4 linked regions of the Homo sapiens genome follow. The protein of the gene in region 4 interacts with the protein of the main gene of each other region in a biochemical or structural test. Each region holds a gene or a part of one and is shown on either strand. Other genes may lie near its edges. The genes, in order: MAGI3, CDH5, NRCAM and PTPRB.

Region 1 (7,075 bases), on a different chromosome or scaffold from region 4:
GTTGTGCAGCCAAGAGGCAGGGCCCCCTTCAGAGTACCAGAGGTGATACTGGATAAGTAATAAGATATTTCATTACCCTTGGCAAAGATTCATTTAGTAAAGGAAATTTGGGAAACTGTGGCCAAGAAGCTAGAGGAGAAGTCTTGCTGGAGGCCTTTCGGGGAAAGGCTTCCTTGATCTACAAAAAGGAAATGAGGAAAGGAAATATCCTTTTCCCTCCTTTCAGTCTTTAGCCATTATTGTGTGTGGATGTGATACTTGGAGCCTCTGCAGCCATCTTGGGACTGAACTTGTAAAGTTTCCATAGTGAAACATATTGATATGTTTTGGATATTTGTCCCCTCCAAATCTCATGTTGAAATGTGATCCCCAGTGTCAGAGGTGGGGCCTGGTGGGAGGTGTTTTGATCATGGGGACAGGACGGATCCCTCATGAATGGCTTAGTGCCGTCTTCTTGGCGATGAGTGAGTTCACACCTGACCTGGTTGTTTAAAAGTGTGTGGCACCTCCACCCTCTCTTGTTCCCACTTTCACCATGTGATGTGCCTGCCACTGCTGCACCTTTCACCATGACTGAATCCTACCTGAGGCCTCACCAGGAAGCCAAGCAGATACCAGCGCCATGCTTGTACAGCCTGCAGAACTGTGAGTCAACTAAACCTCTTTTCTTTATAAATTACCCAGCCTCAGGTATTTCTTTATAATGACACAAAAATGGCCTAACACACATAGCTATCTCTAGCTCTATAGATTAGATAGATTAGATAGGGATAGCCCAAAGAAACCTTGGAGATCACCAAATTCAATTGCCTCATTTATTTTTATTATTTTTGTTCCATGTTGTTTGGTTTATTAATATTCCCCAATGGAAATCACAACTATTAAACCAACCATTATTTTTGGAAAGTCGTGATAAACATGAATACAATACGATTATTTAATTAGGTGTCATTTTAGAGATAGAAGCTTAAAATATGACCCCTTTATGTAATAATTGCCAAAATAATATCCTACCAGAATTAATTCAATAGCATGGGTAGCTTATTTCTAGAATATTTTAAAAACTGAACCAAAGCTTACTAAGATGGGTGAATTTAATACAATGTTTTTAGCTTTGTCAAAGATAGTACAATTTAGCACAAACTAAAATAAAAATTTACTGTTTGCTCTATGCTGCATCCTATGTTATCAAATAGCTTGACTCAAATTACTTGACTCAAATAGCTTCATACAGTTCTCACAACAACTCAGGTAAACACTGTCATCAAACCCATTTTGTGGATGAGGAAATTGAGGATAGGCAAGGTTAAATAGCTTGCTCAAGATCACAGAGCTAGCAGTAGAAAAGCTGGGATTTGCAGTAAGTAGAAAAGCTGGGATTTGCAGTCTGATTTGCTCAAGCTCTGAACCACTGCAGTTTTCTGCCCAAGAATGAATACAACTTATTCATGGTTGAGGCATGTGGCAAACACTGTTGGATGCCTACTTAGCAACTATTTCCCCTTTTCTGCTCTCAGTCAGAACACTCATTTTGTTTAGGGGTGACTTGTGATCAATTTAATGAACTGTGGCCAATCCTATCTCTTTTTGCCAGTGACTGGTCTGATGTGGCATATGACCATTTTCTGGACAATAAGGAAGATTCTAAAGTCTGGGAAATATTTTTCTCCTTCATAAAAATGGGGGACAGCACTTCCTTTTCTTCCGTTCCTGCTCTGTGCAGTGACCTCTGTGGATGTGATGTCTGGAGCTATGGCAGCCACATTGCAATTAAGAGGTGACAAACCTGGAGACAAAAGCTCACATGCATGTGATGGCAGAGAGCAAACACAAAAAAGAGCTTGGGTCCTTGATGACATGATTGTACTGCTCAACTAACCCTGAAACTATCTGCACTTGAAATTTATATTGAAGATATAGTAAATGACCTCATGCTTTAAGCTACTGCCAAATATTCTGTTCCTTGAGGCCAAAGGCATTCTAACAGATGCAATCTAGACACAGAAAGATGTTTTCCCAGAGTTCCTGCAAAAACAGATGATGTGTAGGTTATGGAGATTTTATCCAGGAATCCATTAGTATAGGTAGTAGTTTAGAAAAAAAATACTCCAAGCTTTGTCTCAGATATGGTTAAATCTGAGCCATCCACATGGTGTCTGTGCTGAATATTTTCCCCTCAGATGCACTGTTTCCTTTTCTGAAACTGACTGATATGAACTATATCAAAAGCCTCCCTTGCCCTCTGGCGTCTGGTTGGACTTGGCCATTGACAAGCACCAGCAGGAGACTGGAGGAGGGTGGTGAGTTAGATATAAATCCCCCAGGTCCTTTGCTGGGTGTTTACTTAGGCTGACTGCATCCGTTGACTGAAGGTCACAGACTCCTGTCAGGTGGCCCTGTGTGTCTGGATTTTTCGGTAACTGTTCTTTCCCGATTGGACAGATCTAGGAGCTGTAGCCTCAGGGTTCCAGCTTCTCTTGTGGTTTCCCACACCCTGCCCACATCTTTGCAAAATGCCATTTGTTTCCTGCCAGGACCCTGACTGATACAATGGTGTCAACGAAATCACTGCAGCTATTGAAGCTTGGTCCAGTCTATCTGAGGTGTGGAGTTTTATAAGGGCTTTCACCTACTATTAAAGGGAGACAGGAGACTACACAAATAAATGTCATGCTGCAAAAGTGAAACAAAGATCATAGCTCAGAGAAAACACTTTCCACTTGAGGGCAAGAAATCAGAGAAAGCTACCTGGAAGAGCCGGCATTTGGGATGAGGACGGATAGGAGTTTTAAAAGAGATGAGATGAAGGGCATTCCAAAGACAGGGAAGAGTGTAAGTCAAGCCGGGGAAGAGAGAAAGCTCAAGTGAAATTTCTGAAAAATTAGAGCTGGAAGGGATCTACGATATCTTTTATTTAATGTTCGTTCTCCCTTCACCTCCTTTAACTGAGATTTGGCCAAGGTCAAACAGCAAGTAAGTAGCATGTCAGGACTCCAACCAGATCTGCTGGCTACCAGGTTAGTTCTTAATAATCCACCTTCTACCTCCACCCCACTCCCTCACCTCAGGCAGTCTGCTTACTTCTCAGTCTCTCCCACTAGACTGTAACCTCCTCAATAGCGGGGCTTCTGTTTTCTTCACCCTTGAATCCCAGTACCTAGCACAATATCTAACACAAAATCGTCATCGTCATCAGCAGCAGCAGCAGCAGCTACCAAACTTTAAGAGGCAACCACCCACTGTCAGGCACTATGCAGTTATTTTGTACATCTTCTGTAATCTTCACTTTTCACTGAGGACGCTGCGGCTCAGAGAGGTTGTCTAATTTGTCTTAGGTCATACAGCAGTGCCGGACTCTATTTTATAATATCTTTCATCAACCGGACTCCGAAGCCCTGCCTCAATGGGCGTTCAGTAACATCTGTTGAATGAACGAATGAACAAGCAATATCCACTCAATGCAAACTATCGGCTGTAACAGGCCACCCTAAAGGCCCCGGAACCTCGGCCGGCTCAGGACTCCGCACGTTGTCTTCCAATCTAAGCACACCGGCCCCTCTCTGCGCCCCGCACAGGCTCAGAGGCTCCGCCCGCGTCTCCGCCTAACTCGCCGGCCACGCCCCCACTTCGGGGAGCTCGGTCCCTCTCGGATTCGAGTTTTCCTCGGCTCCAGCCGCCGCGCAGAGGGCCTCTCCCGGCCCTGCGACCTACAGCCCCTTCCACTCCCCTGCCCCTCCTCTGCGCCCTCCCTCACTCTCCAAACTTCTTTTTTCCACCCTCTCTAAACTTCAGTCATTCTAGTGCCCGCCTCCTCCACTCGCACCGACCAACCAGTGGTCCCCATTCTCGTTGGCGGTCCGCCTCCTGCCCGCCGGGGGCCAATCCCTGGCGCGAGAGTCCAGGGCCGGGGCTCGTTCCCAAGCGCCCAGCCTGTGACGGCAGCGCGCCGGGCGCCGCGCGGCGGGAGGGGGCGGGGCTCTGGATGAGGGATGGGCGAGGGCCGGGGGAAGGGAAAAGGGAGGAGGAGGAGGTTGCGGCTGGTTTGAAAGCGGCAGTTTCCTGGCAGCTTGGGCAGGCGTTGGTCTCCGCGCTACAGCTCCGCAGCGGCCACGATCGATCCCGCGACGGGTCTACGCGCGCTTCTGCGCGCCCCCCACGGATTTTTCCCGTTCCCGGCTCTTCCCCCTTCACCTCCCCGCCCCCCCGCCTCAGCCTTTCCCGCCGCTCGGGCGCTGAGCCCAGGGACCAGCCGGCGGCAGTGACCCCGCCCGAAGCCCCTTCTGGAACCTCCTGGGGACAATTCCCTTTTCCTTTCTTCAGCCTAACCCGCGGTGGCCCTCGCGGAGTCCGGTCAGCCCCGGGGAGCGCAGCCGGGAGGGGCGTCCAAGGGGCGTCTCGCGTCTGGGAACGGCCGGGCCCCCAGCGGGCTGTGGTCGCGGGGTGGGGGCCGGAGCGGCGAGGCCCCCCTTACCGGGCTGCGCGGGCCGCCCAGGGCCCCCGGGCTGAGACGGGGCCGGAGCGGCGCCCCGGCCGCCCGCGCGGGGTCTCCCCCATGGTGCAGCGGGGTTCGGGATGTCGAAGACGCTGAAGAAGAAGAAGCACTGGCTCAGCAAGGTGCAGGAGTGCGCCGTGTCCTGGGCCGGGCCCCCGGGCGACTTCGGCGCGGAGATCCGCGGTGGCGCGGAGCGTGGCGAGTTCCCCTACCTGGGGCGGCTCCGCGAGGAGCCCGGCGGGGGCACCTGCTGCGTCGTCTCGGGCAAGGCGCCCAGCCCAGGCGATGTGCTGCTGGAGGTAAACGGGACGCCTGTCAGCGGGCTCACCAACCGGGACACCCTGGCTGTCATCCGCCACTTCCGCGAGCCCATCCGTCTCAAGACTGTGAAACCAGGTACGCCGGCCCTGCGTATCTGTCTCGGGGTGTTGGGGAGAGGGGCTTCAGGGTGGGCGTCCTGGGAGCGGCGGCACCTCCCCACCGCGTATTGTCCCGGGTAATCTTAGACCTCTAGGGTGTGCCAGACTCCTTGACGAGGGGGAGGGGTGGCGTTGGTGAGTCCCATTTTGCCGAAGGGAAAACTGAGCTCTGGCTTGGCGCGGTTGCTCTGCTAGCTGTGCTAGCTGTCACAGAATTGCGACTAGAAGCTGGGTTTCCTACATTTGTAGCTCCATCTCCCCCCGCAGACAAGAGTTTTTGACTAGAGAAGGCCAGCCTTTTCCTGTGTTGTGCAAAAAGGCCCTTAGGATTGTAACATTTTCTTTGGAACGATCTTACGCATCTTCTAACAGGGAAAAAGGGACTTTACTATAGAGGCACTTGGTGCCAAGGTTACCACCTGGTGTACCTGGAAGGGCTTAGCTGCTTCAGTGTTTCTTGCACTCTAGCAGACATCTCAGAGCTGACAGCCTAACTCTGTCAGTCCAGGTGGTTCAGGTGTCTGAGTACCGATGACGGTACAATATGTGATATGTGGCAGACTGGTGTGTTCTTGCAGGGAGCTGTTGAATAGAGTCTGGGTTTTGCAGGAAGACCTAGGTGCCTAGCGGAGTGAAAGCTTCTGTAACGCTTTTGATTTTACAGAATTTTGTTGAAGTGGTAGGTTAAAGGAGCCTCTGTTGCCCTGGTATCTTTTATGCTAGTAAAAATTGCTGCAAAGCACGTTATGTTTATGGCATACTCGTCAGTTTCAAAGCATTGATCAGAGACAGCATACAGTGAGATCTGATAGTATGTAGTAGTTCTTATGAATTTGTTATAGACAGCATTGTTGGTTTTGTTTCAGCATAGATAGAATGTGGTTCTGTCGTCTTAGATGTTTGTGGGAGAGAGAATTGTGATTGTAACATTATTAGAAACCAAACTGTTTTTCCTTAATGTGCTCTGCTGAGTATACGGTGCATCAAAATATAATGGGCTGGTTAATTGTTACCTGGGCTAGGTAGCAGTCCATCCCTTGATGGCAAAATGCTAGAAAATTCTGGATAAAAATTTAATATGTTATCTCCTTCTCATTTCTTTCTCAGCAGCTCGCTTTGGAAATATTAATATATCTTTAATAGTCCTTGAGCTTAATGGGGCTTGATGGTTTGTGGTGCAGTTTACATATGTCTGTGTATTGTGGATATGTATACACACAGACTCACATGCTCCTAAGGTCATAATTAAGATTTTCTTTCTATAGCGTATTCCATCGTATTCATTTTAAGTGTATGGGTTTATGTGGTGAGGTTTTCTTTTTATTGTTGTTAATTTTTTAAAACTTTGGCAGACTTTAAACAGCTTTTTCTGTATAGTTTTGAGAATTTGTAAATTTTTTTCTTAACTCTAACTTTTACAGCCATGTGTGAAAGGCAGAGGAAAGACTTTTGGGGCTGTAATTCAGCTAGTCAGGCACTGTCTGTAATATGCAAAAGGCTATATAGACAGCATTTACTAGTCTAGCTGCCAAATCTTAGTTCAAATCCCATGAGTTAGTGAATAGTGAGAACATCTGCATCATTTCTTTGTGTTTTGTTTTGATTCGTTAGGGCATAGATGAGAATATAACTTATTTTTAGAAATTTTAAAGTTGATATATTGACATGGAAGCTGGTGTATTCTAAATTATTGTGATCTTTTTTAGAAGACTGAAGAGATGGCTATTTCATAACATTAGTCTAATCTACCTGTTATACATTTTTCTCAACCTCTATATTATATTTAACAATAATTCAAGATTTAGAGCATTAGTAATATTAACTGTGTTGAATAAACATCCTATGCCCCCGTATGTAGTTGACATTATTAGAGTAATACAGTTTTGCCCTCTTGACAGCCACAGACACTGTTCTATTTTAAAGATTTAGCCAAAATAAAGGGAATAACGTATTAATGGCCACAGAACATTTTGTAGTCATTAGTAATAAAGTTCTGAATACTACACTTGTTTTTTGAAGAGACACTTTGTGTCAGTAATTTCTCAAGATACCATTATGTCTGTGTTATTTGAGATTAATATTGTTTCTAAGCAGGTTGTAATTTAAAATTTTTAATCTCTTTTAAAAATAGTATTCTTAGCTTCTTAATAGCCTCATGTTAGGT
Region 2 (6,963 bases), on a different chromosome or scaffold from region 4:
CATCTAGTCTATCCCCTTGCCTTCTAAAGGGACAGCTCCAAACTTCAAGGAGAGAACACCCATGCTAAGGAGGCTTCCAGACTCCTCTGGGCTTCCTGACTTTGTCTGGGACTGTCAGGGCAGTGCGGGGAACAGAATGAGGCCCTTGCACCTGCCTATTTGAACCTGCCCAGCTGCTCGGGAGCTGTGTGACCTTGGGTTCATCTCTTGCTTGCTGAGCCTCAGCTTCCTTATCTGTAATGGAGGCAACAATAGCTGCCTCCCTGGGCAGGAGGATTAAATGAGATCATGGGTGCAAAGCCTGGCACACAGTAGGTGCTCAGTAAGGGTGCAGGTGTCTTGACTCCTATCTACCCGCCCTCTCCAGCCTGGTGGGTGTGGCTTTGACTGGCCAACTTACGCTTGACCTCATTTCCTGGCTCTACTCTGGGCCCACCTCCTACTCTTTCTGTTCCTCTGCAGAAGGAAATCTCATTCACCACCAGCCCGGCCTGCCCCTGGGTCCCACTTCCTCCTCCTTCTAGTATCTGGACCTGCCAGGATCTGACTGTTTTGCTATGGTCCAAGGCAGACAACCTGGAAATCCCTGAATTAGTTTAGGGACCATCCCCTACTCTCAAGAGATGGGAAGACTGAGGTGCAGGCTGCAGAGGGGCTGCCCAAGGCCTCCTAGCATCTGGGATTCCCACTCTTCCTCCAGCAAGCCCTCCATGATTTACCCACTTAACACCAGCTTGAACCTGGATCAGGACAGACTTTTTAGTATCTCCTCAGCCAGAGGTGAAGCTCCTGAGGCCCTGCCTCCTAGAACATTCCTTCCCCTGGTATCACTGGGCTCCTGGCTTGTCCCTGTGCCTGCCTCTGTGGCCTGGACTGCTCTGCTTTCCCCCTCTCTGAGCTTCACTGTGGAGTGTGGCATGGACTGTGGGTCAGAAGGAACCGCACTCACCCTGCTTCTACCTTGTGTTGGTTGTGTGACCTTGGACTGGCTGCACAGCTTCCCTCAGCCTCGATGGTCCCATCTGTCAAATGGGAATTCTCATAGTTGCTTCAGTGTGACTGAGGGGGTGCAGAGAGAGGATACAGGGAACAGTCATGGGTCCATGTGGGCAAAATGAGCCTAAGATTCTTCCTGGGATGGTGTCCCCTCTGTCCCCTGGGTGTCCCCAAGTCAGCAGTGAATCATCCAACTTTGCAGAAAATGTGTGGCCCCTGCTGGCTTCCTGCCCTCATGTCCGGCCCTTGTTTGGCAACACAATAGCTCAGGCTGAGGCTGCAGGCGGGCAGCTTAACCCCTTCCAGGCCAGTATACACCTCCCCTACCCCTCACCACCATAAGCTGAAATTGGTAGGGCTGCTCAGGGGCTCAGCAGCTCTTGGGCCCCTTGGTGGATACCTGCTGCTCTCTAGGGCAGGCAGAGGAGAGTCCCAGGCTTCCCACCACCTGAGGATGGACCAGGGCTTCTGGCCCTGGCTCCAGTGGCCTGTGGCAAAAGAGCCTTCCAGGTACACCCTCGACTCCTCAAAGCTGCCTCCCTGGGAATGCCCTTCCTCTCTTGTCAGAATCCTATCTGCCCATCACACATGAGAAACGTCCACGCTGGGGAGGGAGCCTGACATGGAGCAGAGGCCCAGAGGTGCTCGCGATGTCCTCTCACTTGCACCCCCTTCCTCGTACCTGCTGGGCACCTGAGGACCCCTCCGTGATGGGGTTTGACCATACCTCAAGGGCCAAAATCTTTATCACATTCACAACCAGGATCGGCTCTGTGCTAGCTGGTAAATCCAGCCACTATTCCTTAAAGATCTCATGTTATGTGCCATTCCCAGCACCAGGGATGTAGCTCACTTCACTCAATTGACTGAGGAAACACTGTTTCCCCATTTCACAGATGAGACACTTGAGACCTGGGGAGAGCTGGGGCTTTGGAGTACGAGATCCTGGTTCAAATCCCCACACCAGCTCATATGTTTCCAAAGCTCAGTTGCTTTCACTGAGATATAAAGAAAGAATGTATCTACCTTGTGGAGTTGTTAATGGTAAAATAATGAGCCCCACACCATCCCTTGTTCCCCACTGTGGTTTGGAAACTCTGGGTAACTTTCCCAAGGTCACCCCAGAGCAAATGGGAGAGCTGGGATCTGTACCCAGGGCAGCTGTCTCCAGGCCAGGCTCTTGGCCCAGACCTCCTGCTTCTGGGGGACTTCCTGGGCTGTGGGGGCCTTGGGGCTCTTATGCTCTAGCCTTTGAAAGGGTGCTGGTGGGAGGAATGGTGGACCGCTGTCCAGACTACAGCTCCCTTGACACATAGTGGGCCCCGATGGTGTTTGGGCAGGGAAAGGCCCAGAGGGAAAGGCAAGACCTCAAGTGCCCAGAGCCAAGCCTCAGCTTGCCTATCCTGAAATGGGGGCACTGGCTGACCGAGAGGGGCCAAGGCTCGGAGCTTCCTTTTCAGGGCCCCTCCCCAGATCCCAGCATAGAGCTTTAGTGGCGTATGGGTAGGGGGCTGAGGAGGCTGGTGTCAGGCCTTGGTAAATCCTCTCCAGTAAGGGTAAGGCACCGAGGGGAGGCCAAGGCCTGGGTGCCAGTCCTCTGCCCCGGCATGCTGGGCAACTGGGGCAGAATACTGCCCTCTCTGAGCCTGGCACTGATGAAGGCCAGTGGGCCTTTTTGAGTTGGAGAATACACTTCTGGGAGAGCCAAGCCCTTGCCCTGCCCCCCTCAGCCCCGAGATGCCCATTTGTGCCCTTGGCACTACCTCTGGGTGCACCTTCCCCGACCCTGCTCTGAGCCACGAGGAGGCCCAGCGTGCCCTCGAGGAGCCTCTCTGTCATGGGAGTGGGACGATGCCCATTCTACAGATGGGGAAGCTGAGGACCCTCCCATCTTGGGCGCAGGGTGGCGGGTTTGGGGTGGAGGGGAGTGTGGGAGCCCCCACTCACCGTGCCTGTGGGCTGAGGGATGTTTCTGTTCCGTTGGACTGCCTGTCCGTCCAGGGCTGAGCGTGAGTGGAGCTCTGTGGAGCCTGTCAGCCGACCGTCTTTGGAGGGGAGCCACACCCCGCTGGCGAGGGAGGCCTGGCTGCCTCCCCTTCAGGTTTTCCAGCTGGCCCTGGCCCACTTCCCCCTGGGATGGTTTCCTGTTATTGTTCCTTTGTGAGGGCTGGGCTGGCTGCAGATAGGCAGGCCCTGCGGTGGGCGGCTGCCTCGGCCCCGGATGGCTGTCTCCACAGAGGGCTGGCACTGGACCCTGCCTGGGGCACCCCACTTGAACCCCTACTCCCGGCCTCAGCTCTGGGACTCTGAACCCAGCACCTGCAAAGAGCCTGGCTGTGGGGACCCTTGGCTGCAGCATCACATTTAACCCTCCTTGGAATGCTACAGGCAGGTGTCATCACCCCCATTTTATAGCCCGGGAAGCTGAGGCTCAGCGGGTTTAAGGTGCTTGTCCACCCAGCTGGGGTATAAAAGAGCCAAAAATCTAGCTGGGGTCAGCCTAGCCCCAGAGCTTGATTTTCTGTGGTGATCCCATGATGTCTTTGTGGGAATGGACTTTAAAGGTGACAGGGAGGCTTCAGGAGATGGGAAAGGGACAGAAGCTCTTGGCTCTGGAGGACCAGGTTGGCTTCTCCTGGTCAGAGCGGGCATGGACTCCAGCTCTAAGGTGCCAGCCTCGGTCTGTAGGGGATGTTTGCATTTAGGGATATTGGGTGGAGTCAAGTGACCCAGCTCTGCTTCTGATGTGACCTCTGGCCAGTTGTGTCATCCTGGAGCCACAGTTTCCTCATCTGTAAAATGGGGATAATCACAGCCTCATCCTCACAAGGCTTTTGACATAAACGAGAATCAAAGAGGGGCGTGGAAGACAGTGACGCTGAGGCTGGATCAGAGCCCAGAAGAACCAAGAGGCTGGGGGGAAGGGAGGGGCCAAGATTCTGCTGACCAGGAGAGACATAGGAGGAGCTTCTAAAAACTACAGAGGACTGGGCTCACCCCAGATCAACTGATTTGGAATCTCCCAGGGCAGATCCTGGGAATCTGTCCTTTGAAGAGTTGCTTCTGTTTTTCCATGGGTGAATGGTTGGGAAGTCCCAAACTTGTTTTATTATATAGCTGGGCAAGCAGAGACCCTGAGAAAGAGAGGGCCCAGGGCCGTTTAGTAAATCAGAGCACAAGATGGGGAGTGTGATGGAAGGATATTTTTGGAGGAGGAGGGGATAGTGATTCCTCTGTCTCAGGCAGGTTGAGTTTGAGATGCTCGTTAGATACCCAGGTGGAGGTGTCAGGCTGGTGGGGGAGACAGGGGTGAGTCCAGCCTGGAGTCGAGGTTTGGAACCCAACAGCTTATGGCTGGCATCTGAGGCCATGGGCATGGATGAGCTTGGAGGGAGGGAGGACTTGGACCCTCTGACATTTGGGGATCCATTAGAAGAGGGTCCCATGATGAAGGAGGAATGCCAGGAGAGGGCAGAGGAGGAGGGCAGGGGAGTAGTCAGTGGGTCAGCCTGGGGAGCATGAGGGCTGAGACTTAACTTTGGATTTGGAAGATGAGGTCATCAATGACTGTGACCAGAACAGGTTAAACAGGAAAAGGTAGACAAGACAGATTGGAGGGGCTAGAGAAAGGGGAGAAAGGGGGACGGGGATGTGGAGTCACGTGTGACTGTAGCTTCTTCCCCAAGTCTTACAGTGAATGGGAGCAGAGAAGTGGGAGGGTTTTTTTTTTTTTTTTTTTTTTTTTTTTTTAACTATGGCAGCACGCTCATGTCCCCAGGGAGCATCCAGCAGACGGGAAGACAGATGATGCTGGAGACTGAGGAGCGACCTGCTGGAAGGAGAACAGTCCTTGGGGCGGAATTCTGAGTGGGATCCAACACATTCAACAGCCGATTGTGGAATGAACAAACAACAGCTCAGCGCTTCCTTCTCCAATGGGATTAACTCTGCTTTCTCCTGCCCAGAGGGGGGGTTGGCCGCAGAGGAGCCAGGACAGTGCTCTGTCCCCTGTGTTCCAGTCCACATCCCCCTCACCCCCGCCTGTCCTCATGGTCTACGTGCCCATGGGGATACACTGGCCTGTGCATTGCTTCCTGCTGGGTCTCAGACTCGGGGCTGTGGCAGATGGGGACAGGGCCTGTCCTGGCACCATCTGCCAATTCCCTTTGTACTCCCAGTCCATGAGGAAGTTGACTCTGCCCTGAAAACGACTGTTCCTGTGGTCCATAAACAAAGGAATGGTGAGCCAGGCATGAGCTGTGGGCCCCAGGGGTGGGGCTGGGGGTCACCGTAGCAGAGGTAGCTGAGACTGTGGGAGGGAGGCTGGTGCCTCCTTGGTCCCCCTGAGGATTTCATGCCTGATTTCTGGCACTGCCCAGCCTCTGCTCCAACCTCTCTGGAGGCAAAGGAGGTAACAGGAGGGCACAAGGCCAGGAAGTGTCATTGGGAGCAAGGAAGGCGGCTGGTGGGCTAGCAGGAAATGGGATGGTCTGTGAGACCAGATTAGTAGCAGAGGAGGAAGCAACAGTGGAGGCAGTGGGGGTGGGATGGCGGGTGGGACGACAAGGCCTGGGGACGCCCACCTGGCCTCTGCCAGGAGGAAGCCTGACCCGACAGGGAGCGCTGCTTGGGGAGGTACAGGTGTGGGGGTTGCAGACCCAGGTTTGGATCCTAGCATGACCCGTTGCTGCCTGCATGACCTGGGCAGCCGACTTGCCTCTCTGAGCTTCTTTCCTCACCTGTGAAATGAGTTATCTGTTCAGACTTTGCAGGCCGTTTGGAAGATGAAATGAGACAATGAAAATAAATGACAGGACCAGCAAGCCTTATCGAGTGGCTGTTTCTCAAAGTGTGGTCTTCAAGCCATCCATCCTGGGAGAGGGGGAGTGAATATGCAGATTTCTTGGGCCCCACTCCAGGCTGATGGGGTCAGAATGGCTGGTGATAGAATCCCAGGACTTATGTGTTTGTAGCTCCCCAGGAAACGTGTTTGTGTTGTTACATTTGAGGACCACAGCCTTTGTGTCTGCTGCTAATGCACTAAGCTCTCCTTGGGACTCCTCATTCAAACCTCAGGACAACCCTGCGGGGGTGGTACTACTGTTAGGCCCATTTTACAGATGGGAAAACAGAGGCTGGGAGTGAAAGCCTTTCTGAGATCAGAGTTTGTCAGTGGTGGGGCGGAAATTCCGAGCCACGCTTCTGTTTCCAGAGCCCAGCTCCTTACCCAGGGAGCTTTCCTGCCCTGCTGTAATTGAGTCGGGACACAGCAGGGGTTCCCCAAATAAGACTTCCTTTTCCTTCCTCCCCACAGCGTGAGACACCCAAGGATGGGGCAGGAAAACGATGCCATCAGCTTGGCAGGGGCGGTCGTGGTGAAGCCCTGCAGCCTCACGCCTCAGGACTTTGCCCATGCTGTTCCACCTTGTGTGTTTCCTTCTCTCTCCTTCCTCGCCTGTGCGCAGAGCCCTGGCAGAGCCACCCAGATCTCATTGTCTCTACACTCCACTCCCTCTTCTGAGCTCCCAGGGCACTTTATACAGACCTCATTCACAACCCTCCTCTCCTTTCCCACCGGGATTGTGTCCTATTTGGGTGCTTATCCCCAGCACCTGGTAATAGGTGAGTGCTCCCCAAATGTGAACTTGAAACTGTGCACTCATTAGAACCGGCAGTCAGCCCGCTGCTCCCCGGGTCAGAGAGACTGGGGGGAGAGTCGAGTGTTTTGTGTTCTAAGGCAGGTGATGGTCTGATGGCAGAGGGCTTGATGAGCCCATCTGCTCAGTTACGGGCAAAGGAAAAACCCTTTTGCCCAGCTGGCTGTGCTGTGCTGAGGGGCGGACACACCTCCAGGGAACATAAAATAGGGCTGCTCACCTGAGGTAGTCTCAGAAGGGGCTCAGAAGGAGGAAGAGCGGGAAGGAGGAGCAGGGAGGGGTCTCATCCTCAGCTGTGATTCTACAAGGA
Region 3 (5,320 bases), on a different chromosome or scaffold from region 4:
ACCATGGAGGAGGGCAGCTCTGAGCCAGCAGGAGGTCTTGTCAGTGTGATGCTGGGACTAGGGGGCTGGAGAATAAGGGGCAGGTGGTGGAACATGGGAACACGCCAGGGCTTGGCTGTTTGCCAGAGGGTTTGAGAAGATTAGAAGCATGGGGGTGGAGAGAAGGGAGAGGGTGACATACATTCGATACCTGTAGTGTCCCTCTTCAGACAGGAGAGTTAAGAAATCTAAGTCGCCTGTGATTCGGGAGGGCAGAGTCCAGGCAAGCAGAAGAGAAGCGCCGGGCCCAGGCAGACACCAGGAGCCAGGCTTTGGGAAAGGAGGCACCACCTGATTTCTTGAACTTTTCTCAAAAGGCTGGGAATATCTAGTCCTGTTTTTCATTCAAATGTTTTTGATATGTCCTATTAGATCTGTTTTATATTTTGTTTTAATTTTCTCTGCATAGAACAGCCTTTTGAAAGTAAAAAATAAAATTTTTCACCATTTTAAAACATTAGGCAATATATGTTTGAAAAAGTTAAAAGTCACAAAGAGATCAAGACTGTTTAATAGTTACTTTTTTGAGGGAAATCCAGTCACATTTGCCTGTACCATTACATACACCATTACTTGGACATTCACACTCAATTGGGAACATAAATTACAAAAGAGAGAGGAACTTTTAAAACCACATTTAATTTTTAATACCAAATCTGTTGCACTATTACAGAAGTGACCCTTTCATGCACAGATAAATTTCGCATCTACCAGTATGGAAGAGGAAAAAATGTAGTTTTATTGTTCTCCCAAAATATTGGCAAATTTAAAGTAACTTTTAATCTTTGTGCTCTCTGATGCCAAGGCAAACCTGTTTTGTCTTTTTATATTTTCAAGAGACAGGTGGATCTGTGAAAAATGAATATAGAGACATGAAAGTATTTAGGGCCATCTTTACCTGGGATTACTTTAAATTATGCTTTACCTACATATATCAAACATGCCAGGTTACTAGGCCTACTGTGCCCCATAGGCAAAGCTCTGAAGATTTCATCGAAAAATCTGCTGTCAATACGTAGAAAAGTTCACTATTTCAGTTTCACAGCAAAAAAGGTGGGGGGAGGGGGGAACCCAATAGATATTTAAGTAGATGCTTTCCAATCCCATTCACTGCATTAATTAGCTTACCTCTTATACAGTACAACATAAACATTGCATGTTTATTTGTATGTAACACCTATAAGCATATAGCATCTACATTTTAAGTGTATTTACAAATTCAACAAAATATCTACATATAAAAAGCTTTACTTAAAATTAAACTTGATGCAAGTTATGAGAAACCAATTTATTGGCAAATGAAACTGAGCATTCCTTCAACCATAGGTTGTTATAGATTTTCATATTTGGAGGTAACCCATTTGATAGATATTGTTTATGAATACGATAGAATATATATTTACTTTTTAAACTGCAGATGTAATCCCTTGGACCGTTGGCCTTTTAAGCACTTGCCTGATTTCTTAGATTCTGAAATGTATCCATAACAATTTGCATACACGTTGTTTAATGCTGCAGAGTTTTGAACACTTACATAGGTAAAGTCTTGGAGAATAATATATTACTGTTGGCATGCTGTTGTATGCTTTTAGTGTTGGAATAACTTAGTTTTAAAATTAATTTTCTAGCATGTTGACATCTTTCTTACTGAATGTAATAGAAACCATAAAGGACCACAAAATCATCATGTGCTTCAGTTGGCAACAAAGATTTTCTTTTTATGCTTATGAGGAAATGCTATTTCTAATAAACTGTCTTATTTTTATTTTCATGTTTCCTTCTTTTCCCAGCATTGCAGTTTTCATGAACTCTGCTTTTTAAAAGTTACTTTTAGACAATGACAGTAATCTAGGACCCAGAATGGACTGGACCAGCTGATACAGAATGCACGATGTTGTGGAATGCTTAATATCTGAAGGCACTGTATGTGTCTTGCCCTGTGTTCTCTGAAATAATGTTTGAAATTTAATTTGGATGATTTGTTTTTGATTCTTTCAGTATGGCACAAATGCCGAAATGCACTGCAATACACATTGTTTATGCCTAAAAACAACCGAACATAGAAATGATGTAAAAAGTAGAACACTGTGCTGCTGTAATGCCTGGAAGATTAAGAAGCCTACGGAGTAACAGGAGCCAAGAGTAGGTAATAGTTCTCAGTAAGCATCAGCAATGTGACTGTCATAATGAACTCATTTAGCAAGTATATACTGTACAAACTGTTCCTAACAGTCTCCCAAAAAGACTAACGACAGCTATACATAGTCACCAATTTCACAACAATGTCCACAAAGACATTGAAGTTCTAGAGAATACTACAGTAACATTCTTGACAATGAAAACGGAATTCATATATAGGGGTTCAGCTGAGGGTAGTATAAACAAAGTATCAAACCATGTTTTCATAACATACACGGGTATGTCCTTTAAATGTGGAGCATTTTTCATGCATCATATTGAACTGTATCCTGCAGAGGAAATAACAGGATCTGTTGGTGATGTTGCATTATTTTTTATCAGTTCTGAGGAAATCAAGAATACCCATTTTGAATGAAAAAGTATGCACTTTGCATTCCAGTTCATATTAACATATCATTTGACTGAGTTATGTTTTTGCTGTAACTATTCTCATAATACTAACATACAGCAGAAAATATACTCTCTACCCATATGTTCATAGTATGAGAGGGCTGACAAACAAGTGCTTAGGATAAACATTCTAGAGAAATGGAATATTGGCAAAGAGCTTAAAAATTAAACAAAGGAATTCATGGCGTTGACAGGAGAAGGTGCCTCTGAGCTTTCGTTTCCTTCAGCCGGCTCTTTCTCTTTCTTACCACTGTATTGTCCAATAAAGGAGCCATCCTCATTGAACTGGCCATTAACCCCTTCTCCATAGTCAACTAGGCTGTCGTCACTATCTTCTTTTTTCACAGTCCTGTCTGAAGGAGTTCGACTTCCTTTTTTCAAAGGCTTGTGGTCTTCTGCATCACTGGAAGAAAGAGAAAACATTTTTGTCAAGATTGGCATTTAGGTAACATTTTCTGTTTTTAAAGACCATGCATGCAAATTATGAGAAAGCATTTGGAGTCCTGGGCTTCTCTGGCCAAATCTAATTTTCAGGTTGACTCCAATGACGAGGATGAGTTGGAATGGAAATCAGGAGCAGAAATGGTTGAATCATGAAGTCTTCAGTAGAGTGGATGGCTCCCAATAGTGTTTGTTAATTTCAATGACAAATTCTGATTCCTGAGTTGAAAGCAATCCAGAAATAATCACAAGCATTAAATAAGAAAGAATTCAGAAAAGTAGAAAAATCATCACTATTTTGAATTCAAAAAGGCAAAAGCTTATGGCAAGTAAAGAAGTTAGTATGTTAAACTGCATAATATCTCTGATTCCTTGGTTGTGAATGGAGCATGATTTTGGTTAAGTGTGAAATGTGGATTTTTTTTTTCTGAGCCAGAAGGAGAAGCAAAATCCTGCATTTCAAATAATTTTGTTATCAATGCAGGCCAGACTGTAAACTTCAACCTTACCTTTCAAGAGACCTACAAAATTCCATTAAAAGGATGCAGAAGAAACAAATGAAAACAGCCTAAGAAGAAAAGCAAAATCCTTATACTGATAGTACACAGTATTTTTTTGTTTTTTTGGTAAAAATTTTAGTTAATGAGTAAAGATTTATTAATCTGGAAAGAGACGCACTTTAACTTAAAAGCTCTACATTTGTACTATGAATGGCATGCCAATATATTCTAAAGAATGTGAATGACTCCAAACATGTAATAGCAAATGCTTCCTACACTCATGTTAACCCCCCAGCTCCCTTCTTCCTTGTGTGTTATGCAGCCTGACTATACTGGATGGGAATCTGAGGAGTGTACTTTAATACGACTTTACAAGATTCCATTATTACAATTTTTGCTTATTTCTCTGTTGAACCCGTAAGCACAATTTCTGGAAGACAAAGAGTAATCATTATGTTTTTGAATGTTCACCCATACGGTCAAATACCTAGTTATGCATATTGACCTATTTTTTAATAGGTAACATTTGGGAAAAAAATAGAAAAAGGCAATGACAGGATCTAACATTTTGTTTTCTTTCAAAGAACAAAAATGCAAGGCAAAATAGGAAACATATACATTTTTACTAATGTAAAAATGAAAAAGCCTTAACATACAAAAGGTATCACTGGCTGCAGTATTTAATCTAGCAATTTCTGCTAAGACTTTACTGCTCCCTCTGTTTCAGACAGTGACTTTTTTTTTCAAGCCAAGATACAAACATTTCAAGATGCACAAGTATCCTGGCTCTTTTGACAATAACTTTTACTAGGGATTTCAATTTTTCTCCAAGAAGAAAATCTGAAGACTGGGAAATAATGCTAGCATAATATGACACTGGCATATGCCACTGAAAACAACCTGTTTCAGTAATACACAATTTCTTATTGCAAACTGAATAAACTATATTTTCACCACTGCTAATAAACAACTGGAGAGGTATCATCTTGGGGTGGTCTGTGTTTGTGAGCATTTCAGAGGACATAGCATTGAGTGTCTAACCTGTTATGAAAATAGCCTACACAACATCTCTGGGGTTTAATTATTAAATCCTTCTTGTGAAATATAGTTCATGTTTCAGTGTGACAGTTAATTCAGCTGAAGAGTTCAATAACAGGCAGAATTTGTCACCTGGATTCCAATGACTAGTCTTATTCTGCTCTGTAGAACTAGTGTCCCAAGGAATACACTGCTGGAAATTTGTCATCTGTGGCATTTCTTTGGTCTAGCCATCTATCCACCCATGCCTTCATCCAATAAATGTTTATTGAGTGACTACTCTAAGATAGATTGTTCTCGGCACTGGGAATATAGCAGCAAACAAAACAGACTAAAACCCTCACCTCACTGGCTTTATTTCTAGTGGAAGAAAATACAATTAACAATCAACATAATAAAAAAAATTACATATATATTATGTCAGAAGAGGATTAGCACTATGCAAAGTATAGAGCTGAGTAAAGACTGCAGAAGGTGTTGGAGAAGGGATGGAGAGCTGGCATTTAATAAGATGTCCAGGAAGACCTCATCAAGCAGTAATATCTGGTCAACAACTTTAAAAGAGTTGAGTTAGCAAGGTGAATAGTTGGAGGGAGAGCAGTTCCTGCAGGAGTAACAAGCAGTATAAATGTCTCGGGGTGAGGGGAAGCCTGGCAGGTTCTAGGAACACTAAGGAGCTTGGTGTGGCTGGGGGGAGGGAGAGAGAGAGAGAG
Region 4 (7,032 bases):
TGAAGGACAGTGATCTTTCCACTAAAATATGAAAAAGGCAAAAGGGCAAACTCATAACTCTGGAAATAGTCATGGCGTCTCTTTACCAAATGCCACACTGTCCGCAAATGTGTGAAGTGTCTCTGAAGGGCTCAGTGGAAATCTAGCCAGGGCAGTACCTCTGAGAGTACACCAACACTGTTGGTAACAGATGACATTTTGGTTATTAATGAAGTAAAGAACTGAAAACAGGAATTTAGTTGGAGACGGTCAGCTGGAGAGTCTATTATTATGTACACAATACTGTAGGTAACCAACTCAGTACTTACAGGACTAAAGGTTAAGACAACTATATTCTTCATGATAATGTCCTGGAAGATTTTTCTCATTTTAAAGCAGTCACTTTTGGCCTTTCTCCTGAACAGACAGATGACAAAAATTGATAAATGAGGAGCAGGTGAATAGAAGACAGAGCACTCTCCTTCAACAAACTGCAGTTTTATTCCTGTACTAGTGAGAATGTATGCAAGATGCTATATAGATTTTTTTTTTACCACAGTTACAAATATAAAAATGTATTAAGCAAATACATAATTTAAATTGAAAGACTAAGGAAGTTCTTTGTTCAAATACAGTTAGTTAGAAATATTGTGGGTAGATGCTATAATATGAAAAAATAGAATCATCTGCCATCTTAACTGGATTTTCAGAGAAATAATAAATGATATTAAAAACATAAAAGTGCTCTATTATAGAACATAAAAAGTTCAGTTGCTGTATTTACTTACATTATTTATGCTTCACACAAATGAAGGAATGGCTAGATTAACCTGCACGGACAACAGTATTATTGGACACTGACTACCTAACATCCAAAATATCAGGCCAGGAGCAATTTCAAGAAGTGTGTGTAGAATGTCTATGAGCTGTGCACTAATTTCCACAAGGTAGGAGTCGAGACGAGATTAAAGACTTGGTCCTTGTTCTTGAGGAATTTATAAGCCCAATAGTCCTGCATAGAAAACCAGAAATACTCTTCCAGTAGAGCACTGGTGCACCCTCTTGTCAGTGTGGCAGACTAGGACATTCCACAAAGGCTGGTACAGGCTTTCCTACTAACCTGCAGATGGAATGCTGTCCAACTCTGCCACAAACTCTTAAAGCCACAATTTCATGTGTTCCTTTCTTGATGGAGGTGCTTATCTACGCACACAGCTATTAGAACATCTCAGCATAACTGAACGTTTGTTCTTGGGGTGAGGATATTATTTATTAAAATAGCTATAACCAATTCTTTTTGTGACTGTTCTAGAAGGGACACATTGCATTTGTCTGACATTATTCACAGTTTTGAATAACTTATTTTGGTGTCTTATATAAGATCATGTGAATTGGCATAGAGGTTATAAAAATAATCTTTGGTAAACCTGTTAATCTCTTATTTCCATTACATAAGCCTCTATTTTCAGAGCATTCACCAACAATTTCTTTATTTAATAAGTGTATCTTATATAGACAATCTTTTAAAAAATAAAATGCCTTATTTGTGTTGCATACATTTATTCCGAGGGAGCCTCCCTACAAGTCAAGAGTATTCTCTTAGCCAGAAATACTTCTATTGCTAGAAACATTTTTAGAACAGAACAGATTTTTCCTGTTATCATGGCTGCATCAAATGTTACCCTGCATTTTAACTAAAATGGCCAAACATTTTCAAAGTCATCATGCACTACAAGAATCTAAGGCAGTGTGTCTAAAATGCCAAACCCAGTACATTTAGTTAAATATCTGGTCAATTCAAAAAGCAAAATAAATTGATTCAATTGTTTAATCAGTTAAACCATCTGGCCAACATAGAGTGAATCCTCAAAAGGGCAACATGTCCTAATAGAAACGTGTGACAGGATTGTCCAAGCACACCCAGGCCACACAGAAGAGATGCCATTTTATCTTCATGATGATGTCTGGTTAGATTCTGTTTTGCAAATATTTTCTCTTTGCATCATTTCACTTGCTTTTTGCAGTCATCGTTTACAGATTTTCCTTTGATAGGGAACATTCTTTGAATACCTGATGTAATTCTAAATTTCAGGTTAAAAATAGCAGGGCAGAAAATTAGCACGGCATTTTCTCCTTCAACTCTTCAGGAATGAGGTAGGCTTGAGGGCTTGCTCACTGCAACTTGGAGGAGGATCAGTTATTCCTTATTGCCACTCTGTCTTGGCTAATCAGTTATATTTTCATTTCCTCAGTGAAATGGAACCCAGAAAGCCCTTGAACTGCTATCATATACAAGCAGTTTATTACCTATTGATTTTCACCAGGTCAGGTTTGGTCTGGCTCATGTTTGTAAACTAAAACTCTAGAGCGTCTCAGAGTTTGGGCTCAGATACTACCACTGCTGTTGTGCAGATCTGGTAGCTTTATGATTTCAGGATTCCAACCTCAAAGAATTCTTAGAAAGCTAAGTGAATGAGAATTTAGTATATGGCCAATAATATTATTGCAAAAGGTAAGGAAAATGTTTAACATAAGAAACTGGATCCTTAAACAGCAAGGCAAGAGAATCAGCATGTGAAGGGTAGCATGTGAGGTCTATTTTTATATTGCTGGACATCTGGTAAATGGTTTAATATTATTTTCACATGTCATTTTGGGCTTTCTTCCGAGAGGTGATTACAAAATTTATCAAAGACCCTCCCAAAGAAAACTGCCCCGAAAATGTCTGTGTGCTGTGTGCCTTTTAGTATTTAAAAGTGAATTGGCCAGGTGCGGTGGCTCACTCTTGTAATCCTAGCACTTTGGGAGGTTGAGGTGGGTGGATCACCTAAGGTCACGAGTTCAAGACCAGCCTGGCCAACATGGTGAAACCCCATCTCTACTAAAAACACAAAAATTAGCCAGACATGGTGGCAGGCACCTGTAATTCCAGCTACTTGGGAGGCTAAGGCAGAATCGCTTGAACCTGGGAGGCGGAGGTTGTAGTGAGCTGAGATTGTGCCACTGCACTCCAGCCTGGGCAACAGAGCAAGACTTCATTTCAAAAAAAAGTGAAATTATGGTCATCTCTTTGATGATGTGGAACCTGAAAGGACTATGAAATTATACTCATGGGTATAAAAGATAATATGAACAGTAGATAAAAATCACATTCAACTGGGAAAACAAACATATTCAAGTAGGAGGAGTGGGGCAAGTAATAAAACAGAGGGACTCAGAGGTTTAAGGGATAGAGAATTACTTAGGACAAATATGTGCAAGCCCAGGTAAGAGAGGTGAGTCTTTGAAAATTCTGATTCAAGAGCTGAACAATTGGCTGCTTTCCAGAGAACAACAGAATGACAATACAAAATTGATTTAATGAGATGAGGTTAAAGGAGTTAATTATAACGAACTTGGAAAAATAATTATTAAGATGCTAGATGGGACTCTCCCAAGATTTGATAGCTCAAAAGCACTTTGAAGTCTTGATGATTAAAGTGTACTGCACAGGTACACAGACAGGATGCCCACCAAGACAGGAAATGGAGTGTTTACCAAGACATAACACATGATGCAATTAAATGGAAATAAATCCAATAGAGCTGAATGTCAAGGAAAACTTTTTTTTTCTCCTAAATTTAATAAATAAGTCAATTATATATTTAGTCTTCCCAGGAGTAGGAGCGAATAGTGAAATATTTGTTGCTAAGAAGGTTTAAAATTAGGTGTAGGGTAGGAATAAACATTTCCTGGGTTGGATTAGACTAAAAAAACCTACGATTTTTCCCTGTCATGTCCATTTACATAATTCTGATACTACCCTAGATGTTGCCAGAGTACGTGAGTGTTATTTACTATTACAGATGCATAGGTTTTTTTTATGGTTTTAACTCCTGGTTTGTGCAATTAATTGCTCTCTCTCCTAGATCCAGAGGTTTGCTATTAAAGTAGCATTAGCACTTTCCAGTGTGTGGCCTGTGGAAGGTGACCACTGTCCTAGACTGGCTCAGTTATCCCATTCCCTTGATGAGGCTGTCTTTTAAGCTCAATTGAAGGTAGTAACAACAATCCTAACTTTATGAGGATTCTCTTTATGTGAGTAGAAATGTGTAGATTCTGGAACAGTGCCTAGCAGGTTGCAGATACTTACTAGAAGTTTTCTGAGTGAATGAAAAGTCGAAAATGAATGTATCCTTCCAAGCATTAATGTGCTTTGCATCAAGCAACATTAGTGTAAAATTCTGCTTTTTCTCTTTTTTCTTTTCAATGTAGGAAAGGTGATTTCTAATGGATGCCACACGTTGTAGATCTCTGACCTCTATTTTCTCGCTGGTGGTACATCTACTGCACTTACACATATGTTGTTCCTTTTCATTTCCAGAAGATTCACTTAGTTCCTTGATACAGAATCAGAGCTTAAGACTGTCATTTCACAAGAGCATTGAGCACAATGAAACTGTGAATCTTTGAAGCTTATGATTATGCTTCACATTTTTGTAAACTTCAAATAACCTTGGAAAAATTTCCAGATTGGGTGTAGAGTTATTTAATTATAAAGAACTATTTTAGGTATAGTCAATGATTTTCAATTATTATGTCAATTACATTCGTTGTATTCACTTACGGACTTTATGGTAGGTTACAAAAATATATACTTTGAAAAGAAATATACTCTTTATGCAAAGGAAGCTATGCCATCAACAAACTTGACCTCTAATTCCCAAGTTTATTACAGAAAAATTTGTAGTGTGAAAAAGGCAAACATCTCCAGCTCATCTTCTCAGGTATCTATGAAGATTCCGTACAAACTCCTTTCAAATTTTTCCCAGGAATGCTGTCGGAACTGGACCTTGATGAAGGAAATACTTTCTGACTCATTGGAATTTGTTATAGTCAAAGTAAGTAAGGCACAAATATTGAAGATAAACTTGGTACAGTATGTAGTGCCTTTTGTTATTAAATGCAACTTTGGGTGATTACTTGACATTTTGACTTCATTGATTTACTAAAAGAAGTTTTGAAAATTTTACTGAAGACCACTGTTTTTGTTTTTGCTATTGTTTTTAAATTTACTATATATGATGTTTGTAGTCATTTCTATGAAAATGTTGGCATTAAGCCTTTTAATGAGGGGCACAATCTGCTACCATAATATTCTTTTAATGGGAAATCAAGTAGGAATGGATAATTGTGACTTTTCTAGGAATGGAGACCACTGAAAATGAGACAGAAACTAGTGTGTATAAATACATTACAGTATGGGTGTGGATGTTCACACTCCACACCATGAATGCAATGAAAGGATCTCTAATCACTGTAGATAGTGCTTTGCATGTTATGTTTCCAGTCTGGGTATAGCTGGCATCTTATTAACAAAAGGAATTCATCACTTCTGTTTGGAATCATTCTCTATCAGAACCCTCAACCCTGCATCCTACCATCCTGGGCTTGCACTGCAAGTTACATGATCCCTGAGCTGACCACTTTGGCTTGAATCCCTGGAAGGAGAAAGGAGAGAGAGAGCAACTAGTTCAGACACAAGCATCTAGTTCAGCTTTGGTACTGCTTAATTCTTTTTTCTCCCTCCCTCTAATCCTTTTTTTGACTGTCACATTTGTCCTAATAGCAAGTTAGGACATGTCTGTTGGCTCTCGAGATTCATGGGACAGCAATGCAGCAAATCTAGCCATAGTATTTGCTCTCTCTAGCCCTGCCCTTTTTCCTGTCCAGTGAATATCAAAACAGGTAGAAAACATGGCCTGAAGGATTGTCTCTGCCACCACCTCCATATGCATTTTACCAGTAGTCCTGTCATACAGGTTGAATTAGTTTTATGTAGAACAAGTCATGAACACTTTAGTGTGGAAAAATAGTATTATATAAAGCTTAATATTAAACATTATGAAAAATACATATTTACAGAAGAAACTACAAAATACAACTATGTACAATAATATCTGTTACCTTTAAATTATATAAAATTTTAAACATTCTCCAGATTAATAAATTATACATAGTATCAACAGAAATAGCTGGCACCTCTGTAGGGCATGAAGCAAGTTTTTAAAAACAAATCACACAGTGAATAATTTTTATCCAGGAGCTCTTCAGGTACATTCTCAATGCCTTGAATAGACTGGATCTGAAAGGAAGAACACTGTAATTAGAGACTGCCGCAGGGTGTGTCATAATTGTTTACGCTGTTTATGAAAATTACCAATGTGAAAGACCAGCAGAAACATATAGCTCAACCTAGTTTAAGATGAGACCATTCCTATTGGGACCAGGTAATTCCATTTAGAAAGACAGATTATTAGACTTGGAAGGGACTAGTGATTCTAGCCCATCGCCTCTGTTTTTATGGATGAAGCCATAGGCCCAGAGAGGCAGAGTAACTTACTCAGGGTTACACAGCTTGTTACAGCTAGTTAGTTCGAGAGTTCGGACCTGAATCTTAGCCTTCAGCTACGTGGTGGTTATCCTTTTCTATACCATAGTTAGCTTCTTTCAGGAGTGCTCAAGATTACTCTAAAAAAAGATTCTTAAGTCAAAACAAGACAAAGGAACCTCCAAGATCCCTCAGAACTTGCTCATACTGAAGCCTCTTAAGGAATCTCCCATGCAAAAACCTTAATTTACTATACAGATCAATTAGGGTGTAATTTGTAATTATTCATAATACAAAATAATTATCTGATTTACAAAGGACTCCTCTAAATAGTAGCTCTTTATTTGTGCTTTACAGATGCTAACTCATTAACATACTGGCTAGGCTGGGTGGTAGAGAGAACTAAGTAAAAGGTTAGGAGACACTACCTGTTGAAGATCATTTAGAATGGAGATAAGAGGGTATGAAATAATGTTTGTCAAAGAAAGATTATCTGATTTATAGAGAGATACCAGTCCACATGGCAAGGAATTGTGGCTGCATCTGCCCACAGCCATGTGAACAAGCCATTATGAAGCGAGTCCTCCAGCCCCAGTCAAACCTTCAGATAATGGCAGCCCCAGTCTAAGTCTTGACTGCAACCTCCTGAAAGACTCTGGGCCAGAGCCACCAGTGAGACAATA

What was found.
Region 1: the proteins of PTPRB (region 4) and MAGI3 form a complex in vitro, tested with the Homo sapiens proteins (one study listed by BioGRID).
Region 2: of the proteins of PTPRB (region 4) and CDH5, one has a biochemical effect on the other in vitro, tested with the Homo sapiens proteins (one study listed by BioGRID).
Region 3: the proteins of PTPRB (region 4) and NRCAM form a complex in vitro, tested with the Homo sapiens proteins (one study listed by BioGRID).

The regions. Positions count from the first base shown.
Region 1 is NC_000001.11:113,386,462-113,393,536, forward strand, and holds the start of MAGI3 (membrane-associated guanylate kinase, WW and PDZ domain-containing protein 3), read left to right. Parts: upstream 1-4,053; 5' UTR 4,054-4,572; coding exon 4,573-4,888; intron 4,889-7,075.
Region 2 is NC_000016.10:66,362,739-66,369,701, reverse strand, and holds the start of CDH5 (cadherin-5 preproprotein), read right to left. Parts: upstream 3,012-6,963; 5' UTR 2,944-3,011; intron 1,060-2,943; exon of another isoform or gene 950-1,059; intron 1-949. UniProt on the Homo sapiens protein: Cadherins are calcium-dependent cell adhesion proteins. They preferentially interact with themselves in a homophilic manner in connecting cells; cadherins may thus contribute to the sorting of heterogeneous cell types.
Region 3 is NC_000007.14:108,147,117-108,152,436, forward strand, and holds the end of NRCAM (neuronal cell adhesion molecule isoform A precursor), read right to left. Parts: intron 3,638-5,320; coding exon of another isoform or gene 3,604-3,637; exon of another isoform or gene 3,591-3,603; coding exon of another isoform or gene 3,579-3,590; intron 3,032-3,578; coding exon 2,794-3,031; 3' UTR 533-2,793; downstream 1-532. UniProt on the Homo sapiens protein: Cell adhesion protein that is required for normal responses to cell-cell contacts in brain and in the peripheral nervous system. Plays a role in neurite outgrowth in response to contactin binding.
Region 4 is NC_000012.12:70,515,409-70,522,440, forward strand, and holds the end of PTPRB (receptor-type tyrosine-protein phosphatase beta), read right to left. Parts: exon of another isoform or gene 6,104-7,032; coding exon 6,081-6,103; 3' UTR 462-6,080; downstream 1-461. UniProt on the Homo sapiens protein: Plays an important role in blood vessel remodeling and angiogenesis. Not necessary for the initial formation of blood vessels, but is essential for their maintenance and remodeling. Can induce dephosphorylation of TEK/TIE2, CDH5/VE-cadherin and KDR/VEGFR-2.